Linked DNA regions of Homo sapiens: region 2 is linked to region 1. The links come from fine-mapping of genetic effects on plasma protein levels. A gene starts in region 1. The other region holds a variant in brackets. All regions are shown on one strand. Distances are between the middles of the regions.

Region 1 (9,644 bases):
AACCAAACAAGTGAATCTAATCCATAGAAGTGTTGAAAATAGGGCCTAGCACTTGTAAGACTTCAATAGGTGCTAACCTTCATTATTTTTTAAAATGTCATTAGTGAGATATAATTTACATACCATGCACTTCAACCATGTCAATCAGTGGCAGGAAGTTCTCATGGGCTGCAGATGCTGGGCTGTAAGTAAGGTGCAGACTATTCCAGATGCGATGTTATTTTACGAGGTCAGGATTCCACTCTTTCTCCTGTCACACACCCAGGGCCTGACTACACTGAAGCACTAACAGGCCCTCTCTGAAGGCCAGTAACACGTTCACGCCTGACCCGAAAGTGCAAATCACCATTGTCTCCTTCTGTGCCACTCTACAACCCATGTTTCACACACTGGAGACACCTGACACTGCTTTTGCCCTACACATTTTTTTCTTCTCTCTCTTTTTTTTTTTTTTTCAGATGAAGTCTTGCTCTGTCACCAGGCTGGAGTGCAGTGGTGTGATCTCATCTCAATGCAACCTCTGCCTCCCGGGTTCAAGGGATTCTCCTGCCTCAGCCTCCCAAGTAGCTGGGACTACAGGCACCCACCACCACACCCAGCAAATTTTTGTATTTTTAGTAGAGACAGGGTTTCACCATGTTGGCCAGGGTGGTCTCGATCTCCTGACTTTGTGATCTGCCTGCCTCAGCCTCCCAAAGTGCTGGGATTACAGGTGTGAGCCATCGTGCCTGACCTCCTTCTCTTTTTAAAATCTGTTTTTTCACTGAGTTATAACTTTTATACAGTATACCCTATTTCCTTTTAAAATTTATTTTTTTTAAAGTGTGGCCCAATATACATAATAAAATTTACCATGTTAACCATTATGAAGTATACAGTACAGTGACATTATGTATATTCATCCTTGTTCTGCTCTCATCACACCATCCACCTCTGGAACTCTTTTCGTCTTGCAGAAGTTCTGTACGCATTAAATACTAACTCTCATCGCCTCTTACCCAACCCTCTGGAAACCACCATTCTACTTTTTGTCTCTATGAATTTGTTTATTTATTCATTTATTTTGAGATGGAGTCTCGCTCTGTCTCCCAGGCTGGAGTGCAGTGGTGTGATCTCCACTCACTGCAGCCTCCACCTCCAGGGTTCAAGCTATCCTTCCGAGTAGTAGCTGGGATTACAGGCATGCACTACTACACCCGGCTAATTTTTGTATTGTTAATAGAGACGGGGTTTCTCCATGTTGGCCAGGTTGATCTCAAACTCCCAACCTCAGGTGATCCTCCCGCCTTGGCCTCCCAAAGTGCTATAATCCAAAGGGATTATAGGCATGAGCCAGCACGCCTAGCCTGTATTTGACTACTCTACATATCTCATATAAGTGGATTCATAGAACATTTGCTCTTTTGTGACTGATTTATTTCACTTAACATGGTCTCAAAGTTCATTCACACTGTAGTATGTGTAAGAATTTCAACCCTTTTGCTGGGCGCGGTGGCTCACGCCTGTAATCCCAGCATTTTGGGAGGCCGAGGCGGGTGGATCACGAGGTCAGGAGATCGAGACCACGGTGAAACCCCGTCTCTACTAAAAATATAAAAAATTAGCCGGGCGCAGTGGCGGGTGCCTGTAGTCCCAGCTACTCCGTGGGCTGAGGCAGGAGAATGGCGTGAACCCGGGAGGCGGCGCTTGCAGTGAGCCGAGATTGCGCCACTGCACTCCAGCCTGGGCGACACAGCAAGACTCCGTCACAAAAAAAAAAAAAAGAATTTCAACCCTTTTGAAGGCTGAACAATCCTCTATTGTATGTCTATATCATATTTTGCTTCTCCATCTGTTGACAGATGCTTGGGTTGCTCCCGCCTTGTGGCTACTATGAATAATGCTGCTATGAACAGGGGCATACAAATATCTGTTTAAGCCCCTGCTTTTAGTTCCTTTGGGTATATGCCTCTGTTGATTTTATTTATTTAATTTTTTGAGATGGAGTTTCGTTCTTGTTGCCCAGGCTGGAGTACAGTGGTGCTATCTCAGCTTACTGAAACCTCTGCCTCCCGGGTTCAAGCAATTCTCCTGCCTCAGCCTCCTGAGTAGCTGGTATTACAGACATGCACCACCACGCCCGGCTAATTTTGTATTTTTAGTAGAGGCAGGGGTTTCACCATGTTGGTCAGGCTGGTCTCAAACTCCTGACATCAGGTGATCCACCTGCCTTGGCCTCCCAAAGTGCTGGAATTACAGGAGTAAGCCACTGTGCCGGACCTCTATACCTCTGTTGTTTTTAATGTAAAAATAACATGCCTCTATTATTTTTAATGTAAAAAAATAAAAATAATTTAAGGTCATACACTCTCACTGCATTTGTAGAACTCTATTTTCATTTCAATGCATCCTCTCTGGTGGCTGTTCATATGCAGGTATTTTTAAAAGTAAATGCTACTATAATGGACCAACAATTTTCCAACTACTCTTTTTTATGTCCACATTGCTAACAGAACCATAGACCATGGGCCTGAGCCAAGACTGATTTGTGACTTTATTATCTTGGAAAATAGGAAACGGAAAACACAGTGACCTCTATAAACATATATACGTACATACAAGATGTACGCAAGGACAAAAACATATGAATTCAGAGAGGAAACTCACACAACATGTACCCGTTTCACTTAAATAACTGGGGCTGGACTTTGAAAGAATGAGATGTGAACAAGACCTCAGAGGCACAGGCAGAGACATCTTACATGCACACACATGTGAATCTCCACAACACCCCTGTATGCATAGAGAGTGCAACACACCAGGACACACATAAATGGTAAAAAATAAACTCATACACACACAACCTCACACTTACCAGGATCTTCTCCTTGCCCCCAACTCCCAGACCGGCAATTTCTGAAGGCTGGGAAGGAGATCCTGCAAGAGAACTGAAAATAGCTCTGTGAACCCTGCCCTGGGCTCCAAGTGCCCGCCCACAGCCCTGTCCCATGCTCCCAGCTCAGCCTTGGCCCCATGCCTCGGTCTGCACACAGCCCCAAGTCCAACCCCCTGCCCCAAATCTTTCTGAGTCAGACCTGCTCTCTCTCAATACTTTCCTTGGACAGTACCTGTATCCAGCTCCTTCTGTCATAGTCATTCTCCCAAGGACACTCTGTAATCCACGCCAGAAATTCTGCTGTGGGCTTTGGGGACATAGGGACCCACGCTGGGCTAGCAGTAAGGGGCTGGTATTCCACGGCCAGTCAAGCTTGGGCCAACAACAGCTGAACTGCCTGCCTCTCTGGTCCCTCCTCCATAAAGCAGCAATGCAACAATCATCTTGTAGACACTGAGAACTTTAAACATGACCACATCCTTGAAGTCCCAAGCCCAGTCCTGGCATAGGGCAGCCCCACAAATGGTGTTAATCTCCTGCCCTCTGTTCCCTAAGCTGTCAGATAGGGCAACGCCTAAGCCTGCATGTTTTAGGGGTTGCTGTGAGACAGGAATTTTTAATAATTTTGACTAAGTTCTCCACATGTAAGATATCATGACCACCGAACTGAACAGTGCTGGAAGCCAAAGGTTCTATCTTTCGAACAAACTAGAGAGCAATTGGTCTATTGACTAATGTATGTTGAACACTACGTTAGAGCAGTAGGGTAAAGTTAGCCACACTCCTCAGTTACACACATCAGTCATACACACCTGAATGCACTTATTTATTTTCCCTCTTTAGCCTTATCCTCTATTCTCCCATACACCCACACTCAAACATCTATTCTACTCTGTTCAATATTTACCATTTTATTCCCACTTTATTTATTTATTTAGAGATGGAGTCTCGCTCTGTCACCAGGTTGGAGTGCAGCGGCGTGATCTCTGCTCACTGCAACCTCTGCCTCCTGGGTTCAAGTGACCCTCCTGCCTCAGACTCCCAAGTAGCTGGTATTACAGGCTCCTGCCATCGTGCCTGGCTAATTTTTGTATTTTTAGTAGAGACAAGGTTTCACCATGTTGGCCAGGATGGTTTCGAACTTCTGACCTCAGGTGATCTACCCGCCTTGGCCTCCCAAAGTGCTAGGATTACAGGCATGAGCTACCGCACCTGGCCTATTCCTACTCTTTTATTATGGTAAAATGTACATAACAAAATTGACTATTTTAACCATTTTAAGTGTACAGTTCCATGGCACTGACTGCATTCACATTGTTGTACAACCAACTCCACCATCCATCTCCAGAGTTTTTTCATCTTCTTCACCTGAAACTCCATATCCAGTAAACAATAATTCTCCATTCCCTCTCCCTTTGGCCCTTGGCAACCACTATCTCCTTCCTGTCTCTAAGAATTTAACTATGCTAGGTACTTCTGTAAGTGGAATCACACAATTTTTGTTCCTCTGTGGCTGGTTTATTTCACTTAGCATAATATTCTCAAGGTTCATCCACAATGTATCATGTGTCAGCATTTCCTTCCTTTTAAAGCTAAATAATATTCCATTGTATGGGCCAGGAACAGCGGCTCATGCCTGTAATCCCAGCACTTTGGGAGGCCGAGGCGGGCAGATCACCTGAGGTCAGGAGTTCAAGACCACCCTGGCCAACATGGTGAAACCCCATCTCTACTAAAAATACAAAATTAGCTGGGTGTGGTGGCACATACCTGTAATCCCAGCTACGAGGGAGGATGAGGCAGGAGAATCACTTGAACCTGGGAGGTGGAGGTTGCAGTGAGCCAAGATCGCGCCACTGCACTCCAGCCAGGGCAATAAGAGCGAAACTCTGTCTCTAAATAAATAAATAAATAAAATTTAAAAATTCCATTGTGTGACTACAATACATCTTGTTTTTCCACCCATCCATTGATGGACACTTGAGTTACTTCTACCTTTTGACTGTTGTGAATAAGGCTGCTACGGACATGGGTGTGGAAATACTCGTAGTCCCTGCTTTCAATTCTTTTGGGTATATCCCCAGAAACAGAATGACCGGATCATATGGTAATTCTGCTCAGTTTTTTGAGGAACTGCCATACATACACCACAGCATTTTCCTCAGAGGCAGCACTACTTCACATCTTCACCAGCAATGTGCAAGGATTCTAATTTCTTCACATCCTTTCCAACATGTTATTTTCTGTTTTTTAAAAGCGAATAGCTGGCCAGGCGCGGTGGCTCACGCCTGTAATCCCAGCACTTTGGGATGCCAAGGTGGGAGGAATCAGCTGAGATCAGGAGTTTGAGACCAGCCTGACCAACATGGATAAATCCCGTCTCTACTAAAAATACAAAATTAGCCAGGCGTGGGTGGCACATGCCTGTAATCTCAGCTACTCAGGCGGTTGAGGCAGGAGAATTGCTTGAACCCGGGAGGCGGAGGTTGCAGTGAGCCAAGATGGCACCATTGCACTCCAGCCTGGGCAACAAGAGCGAAACTCCATCTCAAAAACAAAGAAAAAAAGATAATAGCCATCCTAATGGATGTGAAGTGGTTCAATGTATATCTTTTTATTTGTATAACTTCTTTCAAAATGTATATAATTATTTTGTGTATATGTAATTTGTTTTACATAGTAGCATTATGCTATTCCTTTCCCTCTGTGTCTTACTATTTTCTGTTGGAACTGTGTTTAAAATCTATACATTTGTTTTATGTACATGGAATTCATTGCTTCTCACTTTTGCATAGCACTTTATAGTATGCATGAATCACATCCATGTATATTGAGAACCTACTATGTGCTTGTACCAAGCTTTCTATATGATTTAATCTGATTCCATACAGCAATCCTAAGAAGGTGTTGTAATTATCACATTTTATGGATGAGAAAACTGACACACACAGAGTTAAGGAACGTGCCCAGAGTCACACAGCCGGAAGTGGAAGAGGTAGAAGTTTAACCCAGGTCATTCTGGTGCCACAGAAGAGCTCACACGTGTAAGGTGTTACAAAGAGCTATAGGTAGAGATCTGACTGTAGACAGAGGCTCTCTCTTAGGTGAGGGCACTCTGATAAAAGTTCTAGTCCTGATTTGGCTACTTATCTTCACAGTGCAAATCACCTTCCCTTACAGACATCACTTTCTGTCTGTGTAAGATGAAGATGATTTTAATGCTTTTTCTAGATTCACTACTTGTTGATTAAATACCCTTAAGCTAATGGGAAAATAATCAGAATTGAAGTCAGGTGTTTGTTTCTTTCGTGTATTTGGAGTGGCTGGCCTACCTGGGAGCCACTCCAAATACACGAAAACCCTCTGATGTGTCTATTCACGAGGTGAACTGTTCATAGGATGGACTATTCCCAGGGAAACAGTTGCTGTCTCCACTTCCATCCCACCTCTCCTGAACTTTGCACTTACCATGGTGAAAAATTAACTGGGCTAATGTTTCCCTCCCAAGGACAACCTCTGCAAAAGCAGGTATGGCTGGGCCCCAAAAGACCAGGTGCCAGAACAGAGTTGTACCCATCCAGAGCAGCCCACCCATTCACTGCCCAAAGTCAAGATCAAGAGAACATGCAGGGTCTTCTCAGCACTGGAAGAATCAGTTCCTCAGCCCTCCTCAGAGCTTTCTGAAACTGGACTTAGTCCCCCAGTGGAGGGACTTCTCTTGGAGAAACAGGCCTGAGGAGAAAGAACTAGCCCAGAAATGGCACTTATTAGACTTGTAGGTGGGTCCAGCACTATTTTTCTGCATGCACAGCTGTTCTTGTCACACGGATGCCAGCAGGGAAGCATGGTTCTGCCACACTAACTAGCTGGCTGCCTAGTTATTTCCTCCCCTCAGGAAAATGAGAGGGCTGAATGAGGGCCCCTTCCCATACCATGATTTTACAGGGTGAAGTACCTGTCAGGTCCTTCTACTACATGTAATCCTCAAATCTCTCTGACGCTCTTCCTCTACAGTGCAAATCACTCTCCTTCAGCAGACATTGCTCTCTCTGTAACATAAAGGACTTGAACTACAGGAGGACAGTTACAATGCTCTTTCTGGATCCACCACTCTGCACAGTGAGAACCGCTTGCTCCATTCTTACAGCGGAGAGAACGGACGCTGCCCAAGGGGAAGAAGAGAAAGAGCCGGGATTGGAAGCCAGGCCAGTCACTGATGGATCCTGAGCCCCTCTTACTTTCTTTGGCTACCTCTCAATGGTTGGACTTGTTCAGGTTAAGATTAACACTTTACTGGACGATGATGACTGCAAGGCCCCTGCCCATCTTTGCCCACTCAGTCACATCATCCTCATCCCCACCCTTTGATGCTTCTCTAGGCTGTGAACGCCTTGAAAACCTTAGTCTTTTATTTTGGAAGTTCAGGAACTGAATAGGAGGGCTGCAACTCAGAGCTGCTCCGTCAATGTGTGTTAAACTTATTTGACCTCCCTCCACCACTTTTCATGGCATTAGCAATGCAAACCTTTTCACATGAGCTTCCCACAGCCACCCTAGGAGATCGCGAGGGAAGCTACCTCTAGCCCCATTTTACAGGTGAGCAAATAATCCTTGCAGTGTTACAACAGTGTGCCCGTGTAGAGAACTGTTTTGCAAAGAGCTCGATCAATGATGTCATCTTTGCCTTCCGTGACCCAGGCAGCTGGGTGCAGTCTCAAGATCGGAGACTGAGGCTTCAACAAAGTATTGGGTTCAAATTCCAGCTCTGCCACTTGGAACCCTGAGTAAGTAATGTAATCTCTCTGTGCCTCCGTAAACGTGAGGCACAGGAACATCTACCTCACCAACCACTGTTAAGACTGAATCAAAGGGCAGCAGGCGGACTACCCGGAATGAAGAAAGCAATCAATAAATGTGGATTGTGTCATCCTTGTCTCTCTTGACGGACGGGAAGAGGAGAGTGAAACCTAAGACCACAGCGGCAGCGCGTTAACAGGAGGACCAGCAAGGAACGGAAGCCAGGTTGTCAAGCCTCAGTTGGCTTTCACGTATTCTCCTTTTCAGGCGGGTATTTAGGAAGAGAGGAGGGTGAGGAGCACAGCGCACTTCTGCAGCAGCAGCTGCGGATTGGCTTGTGGGAGGCGGTTCTCCGGAGCAAGGCAAGGGCCCCTGCCGCTTCTGGGCTGACTGTGGATTCCGCCACACCTCACAGGGCTTTGTAACTCCCCACCCACTTGAGGGTTCCAGATAACTTTTTTTTTTTAACAAAGCAGGGGTGGGGGTGGGAGATTCCTGCTGTTAAAAACAAACAAAGGGCTTAGACACCGGCTAGTCGGCTGCGGGAGGCAGCAAGAGAAAGGCCGAGGGGCCTGGAGTAGCTCCTGAAAACCGCCGAGGGCCCTGCGGGCAGACGCCCCTGAATTCTTTTGGTGGGGAGAAAAGCCGCGGAGCTCCCCAATGTGCCAATTGGTTTGTTGTTGTTTTGCTTTTTTTGAATACACAAACTCTCCGAAAACTCCTGTCTTGCCCCACTTTTTTGTGAGTTCATTGCTTTGGAAACAAAACTCTCTTCCATTTATTGGCAATTATCAAATTTCCGATCCTTCTCTATCAGGAGATCCAGCAACAAACACCCTGTTATGTAAATTTCTTTCAAAGATAAATTCGAAAGCCCCTCCATTCATTCCTTCAAGAACTCAACAGATGTCCTTGAGGCTCATTTTCTGCCGGGCACTCGGTTCACAAGGCTCAAGAGACCCCTGGCTCCAGCCATTGTCCAGGTTGTCACTGGTGTCCCCAGCTCTCCACTTCTGAGGACCCACTTCTCACCCCCTCCTCCTCCGCACACGTTCCCGAGGCTCTCGGCCGGTGTGATCTCACCGACTAGAGAATAAAAACAGCCCAGGGGCGCCGGCGCCGGCCAAGGGCCTTGACGGGGATCAGCAAGCGCGAGGCCAAGTGCGGGCCCCAACTTCCTGGGCCCGGGCCTTCCGCGCGCCCCCTCTCGGGCTCGGGTCCTCTCCAGGGTGCACTCGCGTCCGGACGACGCTTACTTGCTGCGAGTCCAACCCTCTCCGGCCCGCAACTCCAACCGAGCCGCCCGAGTGTGGACTCCGAGAGCGGACGCCACGGGCCGCGCTCAGCCCTCCCGCCCGAGGCCCCTCTCGCCGTGTTTCCCAGGACTTCCTCCCCGCGCCCGCCCGACTTCAGGTCGGGGCCGCGCAGGGTCCCGCGCGCTCCAGCCAGGACTGCCGCCGCCCGGGTCGCCCACGTGGGCGTGCTGGGCGCGGGGTGGTGGCCGGCCGGGCGCCCTCCCCGGAGCAGGGGGCGGGCAGGGCGCCCGCGGGAGGAGGTGGCGGGGCGCGGGGGAGGAGGCGGGGAGCCCCGGCGGCGAGGGGGCGGTGACAGCACTTGGAAAGGAGGCTGCACGCGGATTTGCATGAAACACAGACTGGGAGCGGGCGGGAGCGGGAGCGCGGCGCACGCCCCGGGCCGGCCCAGCCAGCGAGCGAGCGAGCGGCGAGCCGGGAGGAGGAGGGTGGCGGGGCGGTGAGGCCGCAGAGGCGGAGGGATCTGCGCATCAAAGCTAGCGAGGCGAGCGAAGTTTGGCCGGGGGTTGGACTTTCCTTCCCGGAGGCGGCACCCAAACAGCTACCCCGTGCGGAAACCCAAACTTCTGCTGCCACTTGGAGTCTCGCGGCCGCCGCCTCCGCCCCGCGTTCGGGGCCTTCCCGACCCTGCACTGCTGCCGTCCGCCCGCCCGGCCGCT
Region 2 (8,000 bases), 22 kb before region 1:
GAGCAGGGCACAGGGTTGGGGCTGTCATCCTAGGCATGGGGTGTGGGTGGGGGTGTCATCCTGGGCATGGGGTGGGGGTGGGGTGTCCTCCTGGGTGTGGGGTGGGGAGGGGTATCATCCCAAGCACCGGATTGTGGTGGGGTGTCATCCTAGGCATGGGGTGTGGGTGGGGGTGTCATCCTGGGCATGGGGTGGGGGTGAGTGTCATCATGGGCATGGGGTGGGGATGGGGGTGTCATCATGGCACGGGGTGGGGGTGGGGTGTCCTCCTGGGTGTGAGGTGGTGAGGGGTATCATCCTGGGCACAGGGTGGTGGTGGGGTGTCATCCTGGGCATGGGGTGGGGGTGGGGCTGTCATCCTGGGCACCGAATGGGGTGGAGGTGTCATCCTGGCCACGGGGTGGGGGTGGGGCTGTTATCCTGGGCACAGGGTGGGGGTGGGGGTGCCATCTTGGGCATGGGATGGGGTGGAGGTGTCATCCTGGGCTTGGAGTGGGGGTTTCATCCTGGGCACAGGGTGGGAGTGGAGGTGTCACCCTGGGCAGCGAGTAGGGGTGTGGGTGGGGGTGTCATCCTGCTGTGTACGGGCACCAAGGAAGAATGAGGAGCCATGTATGAAGGGAGACTCTGGGAAGCCAGGCTGCCCACCTCACTTCCCTTCTCCTCGCCCTCCCCCAGCCACAGTCTCCCCAGGCTGGGAGACCTCAAGTCTGATTGCACCAACACCTGGTTTGCATTAAGAAGTTCCTGACTGCTGAAGGAAGCCTCCCATAGAGACTTACTCTTCCCGATTACATAGGGCTTTACAACTTACCAAGTATTTCCAATCATTTTTAATTTTTATCTTCCCACACCTCTTTGAGGTGAGCAGAGAAGGCGTTGTTATTATCCCAATTTTACAGCTCCATGGAAGGGAACTTGCAGACCCCAGCCCAGCCCCCTCCCTTTATAGACACATTAATGTGGCCCAGAGAGGAGAGGCTACTTGTCCAAGGCCACACAGGTAATGCATGGCAGAGTCAGGACAAGAAATGAACTCTCTTGGCTGACAGGCCGATGTTCTTGCTAATGCACTCACCCAGGACGTCCAGACTCCCGGGATTTCCCTGGGAAGTTGCTTAGGCTGGGCGCAGTGGCTCATGCCTGTAATCCCAGCACTTTGGGAGGCCAAGACAAGTGGATTGCTTGAGGCCAGGAATTCGAGACCAGCCTGGCCAATATGGTGAAACCTTGTCTCTACTAAAAATATAAAAATTAGCCGGGCGCGCCTGTAATCCCAGCTACTCAGGTGGCTGAGGCAGGAGAAGTGCTTGAACCTGGGAGGTGGAGGTTGCAGTGAGCCGAGACTGTGCCACTACATTCCAGCCTGGGCAACAGAGCAAGACTATTTCAAAAAAAAAAAAAAAAATCCCCTCGACTGGGCATGGTGGCTCATGTCTGTAATCCCAACACTTGGAGAGACCGAGTCGGGAGGATCACTTGAGCCTAGGAGTCAAGAGCAGTCTGGGCAACATAGGAAGCCCCCATCTCTAAAAGAAAAATAAACAAATTTAAGCTGGGCATGGTGGTGCATGCCTGTGGTCCCAGCTACTTGGCAGGGCTGAGGTGGGAGGATCGCTTGAGCCCAGGAGGTTGAGGTTGCAATGAGCTAAGATCACGCCATAGCACTCCAGCCTGGGCAACAGAGCAAGACACTGTCTCAAAAACAAAACAAAACAAAACAAAAAACAAGTCCCCTTAACAGCATTTTCCCCAATGTCTGCCTTTTCTTCATGAAAGTTGGGTGAAGATTAGGGAAGAAAAAAGATTGTGTCTTGACTTTGGCCCTGCCTTCCTGTTCTGGGTTAGGTGAGGGGAGGGGGCTGGTGAAGGGTGAGTGAAGGGTGTGGTGGCAGCCAGCCGGGGTTCCCATGGTGCCCTGCAGCCACACAGTCAGTGGTGGCTAACCCCTACCCTTCTCCTTTTCCATCCTATTTTCCAACCCTGGCCTGTGGTTATTGATGACCACACCGCTCCTCTGTGGCCTACAAGAACCCTCTTCAGCAAGGATTCACTTAATCACAACCAGAGGGCAGAAAAAGTGGACTCGGGCATTTTTTTAATAACCAGCAGCTACAAAGAGGACTGAAACAAATTGAGTTTTATTAAAAGAATCCTCCATTAGACAGAAAATGTTATTACCTTGCATCCTCTCCTCCCTGAGCTTTCTGCTTAATAGAGTATTGATTGAAACATACATTTCCAAAGTCTGGTCTCAGAGGAGTGGAAGGGGAAAAACCCAAATAATTCAGAAATGAAGAGACCTCTTGCAGAAATGCAAGAGACCTAGCTGAAGTATTATTCTCTGATAGATTTTGGAGGGATGCTGGAAAGAAAAACAATTAATTAAGCAAGTAACAGGCTGAGGTCTGGCCTGAAGCAAAAGTTTTGTGGCTGAGCTATAAAAAGGTTAAGTGTCTAAGGGAAAACCCAGAAGCATTCTAACCAGCTGCTCAAATGGGTGCTGCTATAATTCCATAGTTTGCACCTGACCTGGGCAACAGCTGGCTCTTGGCTCCCAGCAGGGAGAGTGTGTCCCTACTGATTGATCCAATTGAGAAATTCCTCTTCCACTTTGTACTTTGAAATCCAATAACTTACCTCCTTTCTTCCTCCCCCAACCCCAAAGACAGAAAATTAGCCAGTTGGGTGAATGGACTTCATAAGTGATTCATCATATCAATATCATATCAGGGATGCTAAAGACTGCCCTTTGAGGGTAAGTAGGCAACCATCTTGAGCTCAATTTTCCTCCCCCAATATGATCCTGAACATCCAATGGCTCCCTGCTACCTTTAGGATAAAGCCTAGGCTTCTTTGCATGCATCTCAAGTCCTCCAAACTGAAACTCACATTATCTTTCCAACTTAATCTAACAATTCTACATCATATGCCATCTGCCCCAGCCAAGCTACTAAGTCTTTCTTACCTATTCATTCGGATTCTTCCCAAAAAATGTGAGGGCCAGAGAAAAAAGATAATCTCAATGAAATCTTCCCTTTCCTTCCCCAGGATAGACTACAGACTTTCTGACCTTCCTCTCCCATTGCTTCCAGGATATGCCCCACCCTCCCCAGCCTGACTTCCCAAGCTTTTTTCAGCTTTGCTTCCCTGCCCTGCCTTCAGCATGGATGCTCTGGGTCCTGTTTTTGACCTTACACAATTACAAGTGTGACCAATTTAGTCCATTATCTGCATGTATTGTATTTGTCCAACCACACAGTAAAAATACCGAACTTCTGAATGACGGAACAAATGAATTTGCAATTAGCCCTTCACAAATACTTCATGGCAAGGCAAGGATAGAATGATTTGCTCAAGGGATCTTCAGTCTAGGGATTTGCTCAAGGGAACTTCATACACAGAGAGGTGAACTATGATAATAATCCATTAGTAGCCTAAAGGTTAGTTCATTTAAGTGACCAGTTTAGTTAGGGGTTGTTGGCACATCAAAGCAATGTTTATTAAACCTGGCAAAGTGTCACTTTGTGCTTGGGTACCTCAAACTTTTCTAGAGCTAGATGATAACATCTGCTTTCTTTTCAAGAGAAAAATAGTTTCCTTTCCCTGAGCATACAACATCTTTGTTTCCTCTGTTAACTAAGATGTCAGGCTGCCTTGAGTTATTTAAAGAGACAGAAAATGCCTTTGTTTCTCAGCAATATTCCCCTTGGATTCCTTTCACTGACAGCAAACAGCTACCTTGTTATAAGATGTATTTGCTTGCTTTAAAAAGGATATCACTCTATCTATCTAAACTCCACTTGCTGGTTTCCATCTTTACTTAGGATTTCTCTGGTCCCCTAAAGTCATTTCTGTGTATATTGCACTTCTTCGACATTGATATGGAAAGACCCCAAGCTTCATCTTCCTTTTCCTGAGAAAAAAACCCTCCTCCTCCTTTTTAAGGGCTAATAACTCCATTTTGCAAACATACCATTTCAACCCCAGCAGTTGAAACCAAAGGATGCGGCTG[C/T]TTTGCTAAAACCAGATAAATGGGGCGGCTGCCCTGGTTACCGCAGAGACAAAAGCCCACTTTCCAGGAGAATGAGGGCCACATCTGGGAGCCTCAGGCCTCGCCCCTTCCCCCTTGCTGAGGCCCCTTGCTTTCTGCTCAAATAGGAGTGGAGGAAGAATAGTTTCTGCTGCTGACTTGTGACTTTGTGGCGCCTCAGCGGGGGAGCAGAGGGGAGGGAGCACTAATCTAAGACTTGTCTGGTCTAGCGGGAGGGCCCTGGGCTGGGGGCCTGGAGGCCCAGGCTCTCGCCTAAGCCAGCTGTTTGGTGACCTTAAGCAAATCATCTTCTCCTCTCTGGGCCTCAGTTTCCCCAGCCATATAATGAGGGACATTTATGAATTATTTTGGTTTCAGTTTCCCCAGAAGCTTGAGTCAAGGATTCAAGTGTGAGTAATAGGTCATTTAGAAGGTGATCCCTAGAAACTCAGGTGAAGGGTGTGGAAGTGAGACAGAGAACGGAAGGAAGCCAGTGTGAGGCATGCTGCTGAGCAGGTTGTCACCACAGGCAACTGGTGTTGGAAACACTCTGGGAGACAGAGTTGGAAAACACACCTCAGAGTTCATCTGCCCAAGGGGTAAGGAAACTGGGGATTTATCCACCAAATGCTCGTCCCTCATTCATAGAGGGCTGTTCGCCAGGGATATCAATTCTTGGGCACTTTGGGCTTTGCCCCACGCTGGCCACAGTGCTCATGGGTATTAGATGTGAGCGACCTGAATTCAGTGTGGAGGTGAGTGCTGAGGAGATGGGTCAGGGCACCGACAGCATCCGCTCTAATAATTGACCTTTACAGCCCTGAAAAGCTGTGAATTTGCACTTGGGCAAAGTAAGCAAACCTAGGGCTTTGGTATGATAGGCAGGGCAAAAGAACTGTATTCTGTGCAATCAATGACAGTCCCCTACTTCCTTCCCCATGGTTCTAGACCTCTAGGCTGTTCCCAGGGAGAACAGAACAGAAATAAAGTTCATCTCTAACTATTTAGAATGGTGAATTTACCCACTGGCCAGAGAAGATGATGAAACTATAGAGACTCCATCCCACCTTCCTTTCCCATTGCTTCCAGGATATGCCCCACCCTCCCCAGCCTGGCTTCCAAAGCATTTCTCAGTCTGATTCCAAGATATCTTTTCTTTTTTTTTTTTTTTTCGTTTTTTGCTTCCCAACACAAACCACCCACCACTGTTAGGTTTTCTCTCTCCTCACTTCTACGTAGGCCATTCCTACAGATACCCCTACAGTATCTTTCATCTTATTGACTGGTCAGAATTCTAAATGTCTTTCAAGGACCAGTGCTATTTCACCTTCTCCAGGAAGTGCTTCATGACCGTTCTCGGGTTAGAAATATCCCTCTTGGCCAAGCACAGCGGCTCACTCCTGTAATCCCAGCATTTTGGGAGGCTGAGATGGGAGGATCACTTGAGTCCAGGAGTTCAAAACCAGCCTGGGCAACATAGTGAGACCCCCATGTCTCTACAAAAAATTTAAAAATCTGCCTAAAAGCAGCCACCAATTAAGAAAGCGTTTATGCTCAACATCTGACTATCTTTAATTCCAACCAGTAGTCCCAGCTACTCAGAAGGCTGAACAGAGAGGATCACTTGAGACCACGGCTGCGGTAAGCCAAGATCATGCCACTGCACTCCAGCATGGGCAACAGAGAGAGATCCTGTCTCAGAAAAAAACAAAAACAAAACAAAAAGAAAGAAAGAAAGAAAGAAAAAGGGAGAAGGAAGGAAGGAAGGAAAAGGGGAGAGAAGGTAGAGAAGGAAGGAAGGAAAAGGGAAGGGAAGGTAGAGAAGGAAGGAAAAGGGAAGGGAAGGTAGAGAAGGAAGGAAAAGGGAAGGGAAGGTAGAGAAGGAAGGAAAAGGGAAGGGAAGGTAGAGAAGGAAGGAAAAGGGAAGGGAAGGTAGAGAAGGAAGGGAAAGAAGGGAAGAAGGAAAGAAGGGAAGAAAGAAAGATCCTTCTTCTCTGAGTATCTATTGCCTCCAGCACGCATCCAGCCTATGCACACTAGACTCTGTCATTTCTCAGAGGCATGCCTGGCCTCCCTCAAATGGGAGACAACTTCTTTATACTACTTGGGTGCCTATCTCCCAGTCCCTAGCAAGTATCCTAGAGACAGGAAATGTTGAAATAAAGAACAGTTTGGCAAGTATTTATTGAGCACCTGAGTATACAGACACTGTACAAGGAGCAATGGGGTAACTCAAAGGTAAGTAAGATCCCACCATGGCCATAAAGAATTTCAGAGTCAAAGTTGTCCTAGGTAATAGAAAGTCAGGATTTGCAAGAATGGCTCTTGGGGATCATCAGCTCTAAGTGCCTCCCTTCATAGATGCGGAATCACAGAAGAAAATGACTCACCTAAGGTCACATAGCTAGTGAGTAGTTCTACATTAATTTGTTGCTAACAGAGGGCCCCAGGCTGTCCTTTTTTTTTTTTTTTTTGATCATTTGTGCAAGTTCAGAAACAATCTTCTTTCTTTTCCTTTGTCTTTTTTTCCACTTTAAAGGAAAATGAAATTTACTGGCTTCTCTTTCTAAAGAGAAGGGGCAAGGAATAAAAATACCAGTTATGTAATAGTCATTTGCCTTAGTCATGCAGCCCTGCCGGAGTGCTGTTCGAACAGAAAGATGATTAAGTTAAACACTGCATATTTATTCCCCTGCGGTCACCCTAATTGGTTCTGCCGCTGTAATTGATTTGACAGGTTATTTTTACTCAGAATGAGCTGGGTTCCTCTGCTGGCTTGCAGATTTGCTCTTGCTCTTCGAGTCCAGGCCGGCAATTGTCCAGATGGCCAGATGTGGCTGATTTCTACCTGAGGAGGGGGAGGGGGGTCCTCAACCTAGCCTGGGGAGAACTGAGCTTGCAGTGTGAATGTGTGAAGGTATGAGTGCTTGTGTGTGCGTGTGTGTGTGTGTGTGTGTGTGTGTGTGTGTGTGTAGGGGTTGATGGGGGAAGAAGGATAGAGAAGCTCAATGTCATGCTTCAAGGGATCAAACTGGGAAGGAGCTAGGAAAAAATTCAACATGACATGAAACTATGTTAAGGATTTTATTCTGAGGGCAGAGAAAGTCTTATATGGTTTGGAACAGAGGAATGGAAGACCATGTGGGGGAGAGCTTTTTGCCTACAGAGGCTTCTGTACTTTTTGTCTATTCCAAGCAGCCACCTCTTCCCACCACTGCAAACTGCTCCCCAGAGTACAAAGTACATAGAACCAGTGTTCTCGGGTAGCCTGCAGCACCAGCCACCTACACATCCTTCCTCATCTTTGCACGCAGCTCAGTGCCTCCCGCTTTGCCTGCTATGAGGGGAGAGTGTGCTGGCAAATGCTCAGAAACCCATGGGAGACCTCTAGAAGTTGGCAGGGACCCCTTGAGGGAGCTGGCCCCCTGCAGAGAGCCAGGCCATGGGTTATTAGAACCATCTCAGTGATAATGTGTGACTTCGAATATCAACTAACCTTTGAACTTCAGAGTCTTAATCATGTATCAATGTGGGATAACCATAGGCTCTGTCCCATCCCCTCACTAGGTTATGACAACAGTAACCACAAGTAATAATCACAGTATGTCAAGGTCTGAATCAAATGCTTCCTGCCGTGCACGATCACATGCTATCTTCACAGTGTGATCGAGAAGGAGTTATTATTATCCTTCCTTACAGATAAGGAAGCTGAGGTTCAGAGAGTTGAAAAACTCTACTATGGGAATACAGCTCATGAGTGTTAGAATTCAGGCAGGCTGGCCCCAGCCCTTGTCTCTCTCTCTCTCTCTCTCTCTCTTTTTCCTTTAAGTCAGGGTCTCGCTCTGTCACTCAGGCTGGAGTGCAGTGGTGTGACCTCAGCTCATTGCAGCCTCTATCTCCCAGGCTCAAGTGATCCTCCCACTTCAGCCTCTCAAGTAGCTGGGACTACAGGTGCATACCACCATGC

Which allele goes with the higher level. Positions count from the first base shown, and alleles are read on the strand shown. Strength reflects both the effect of a copy and how common the allele is.
For the plasma level of the protein whose gene starts at base 9,317 in region 1, allele C in region 2 goes with a lower level than allele T (moderate association).

What was found. PIP is the posterior inclusion probability: the model's chance that the variant is causal. Protein levels are from antibody-based Olink assays in UK Biobank. Linkage for the fine-mapping came from a reference panel and not from the study's own genotypes, which makes the PIPs less certain.
Region 2: its variant is fine-mapped to the plasma level of the SMAD3 protein (UK Biobank, PIP above 0.99).

What each region holds. Positions count from the first base shown.
Region 1 is chr15:67,056,286-67,065,929 of GRCh38, forward strand. SMAD3 (SMAD family member 3) reads left to right here and starts at 9,317. Exons shown (of 9, transcript NM_005902.4): 1 at 9,317-9,644. SMAD3-DT (SMAD3 divergent transcript) reads right to left here and starts at 7,897. Exons shown (of 6, transcript NR_135686.1): 1 at 6,831-7,897; 2 at 2,855-2,927. RefSeq lists enhancers at 6,263-6,407, 7,565-8,335, a cis regulatory region at 6,328-6,341 and a silencer at 9,094-9,583.
Region 2 is chr15:67,035,361-67,043,360 of GRCh38, forward strand. All of the region lies in intron 2 of SMAD3-DT (SMAD3 divergent transcript), which reads right to left. Among named protein-coding and RNA genes, the nearest start is that of SMAD3-DT, 25 kb to the right of the region's middle. The variant C/T (reference allele first, on the strand shown) is at 4,016.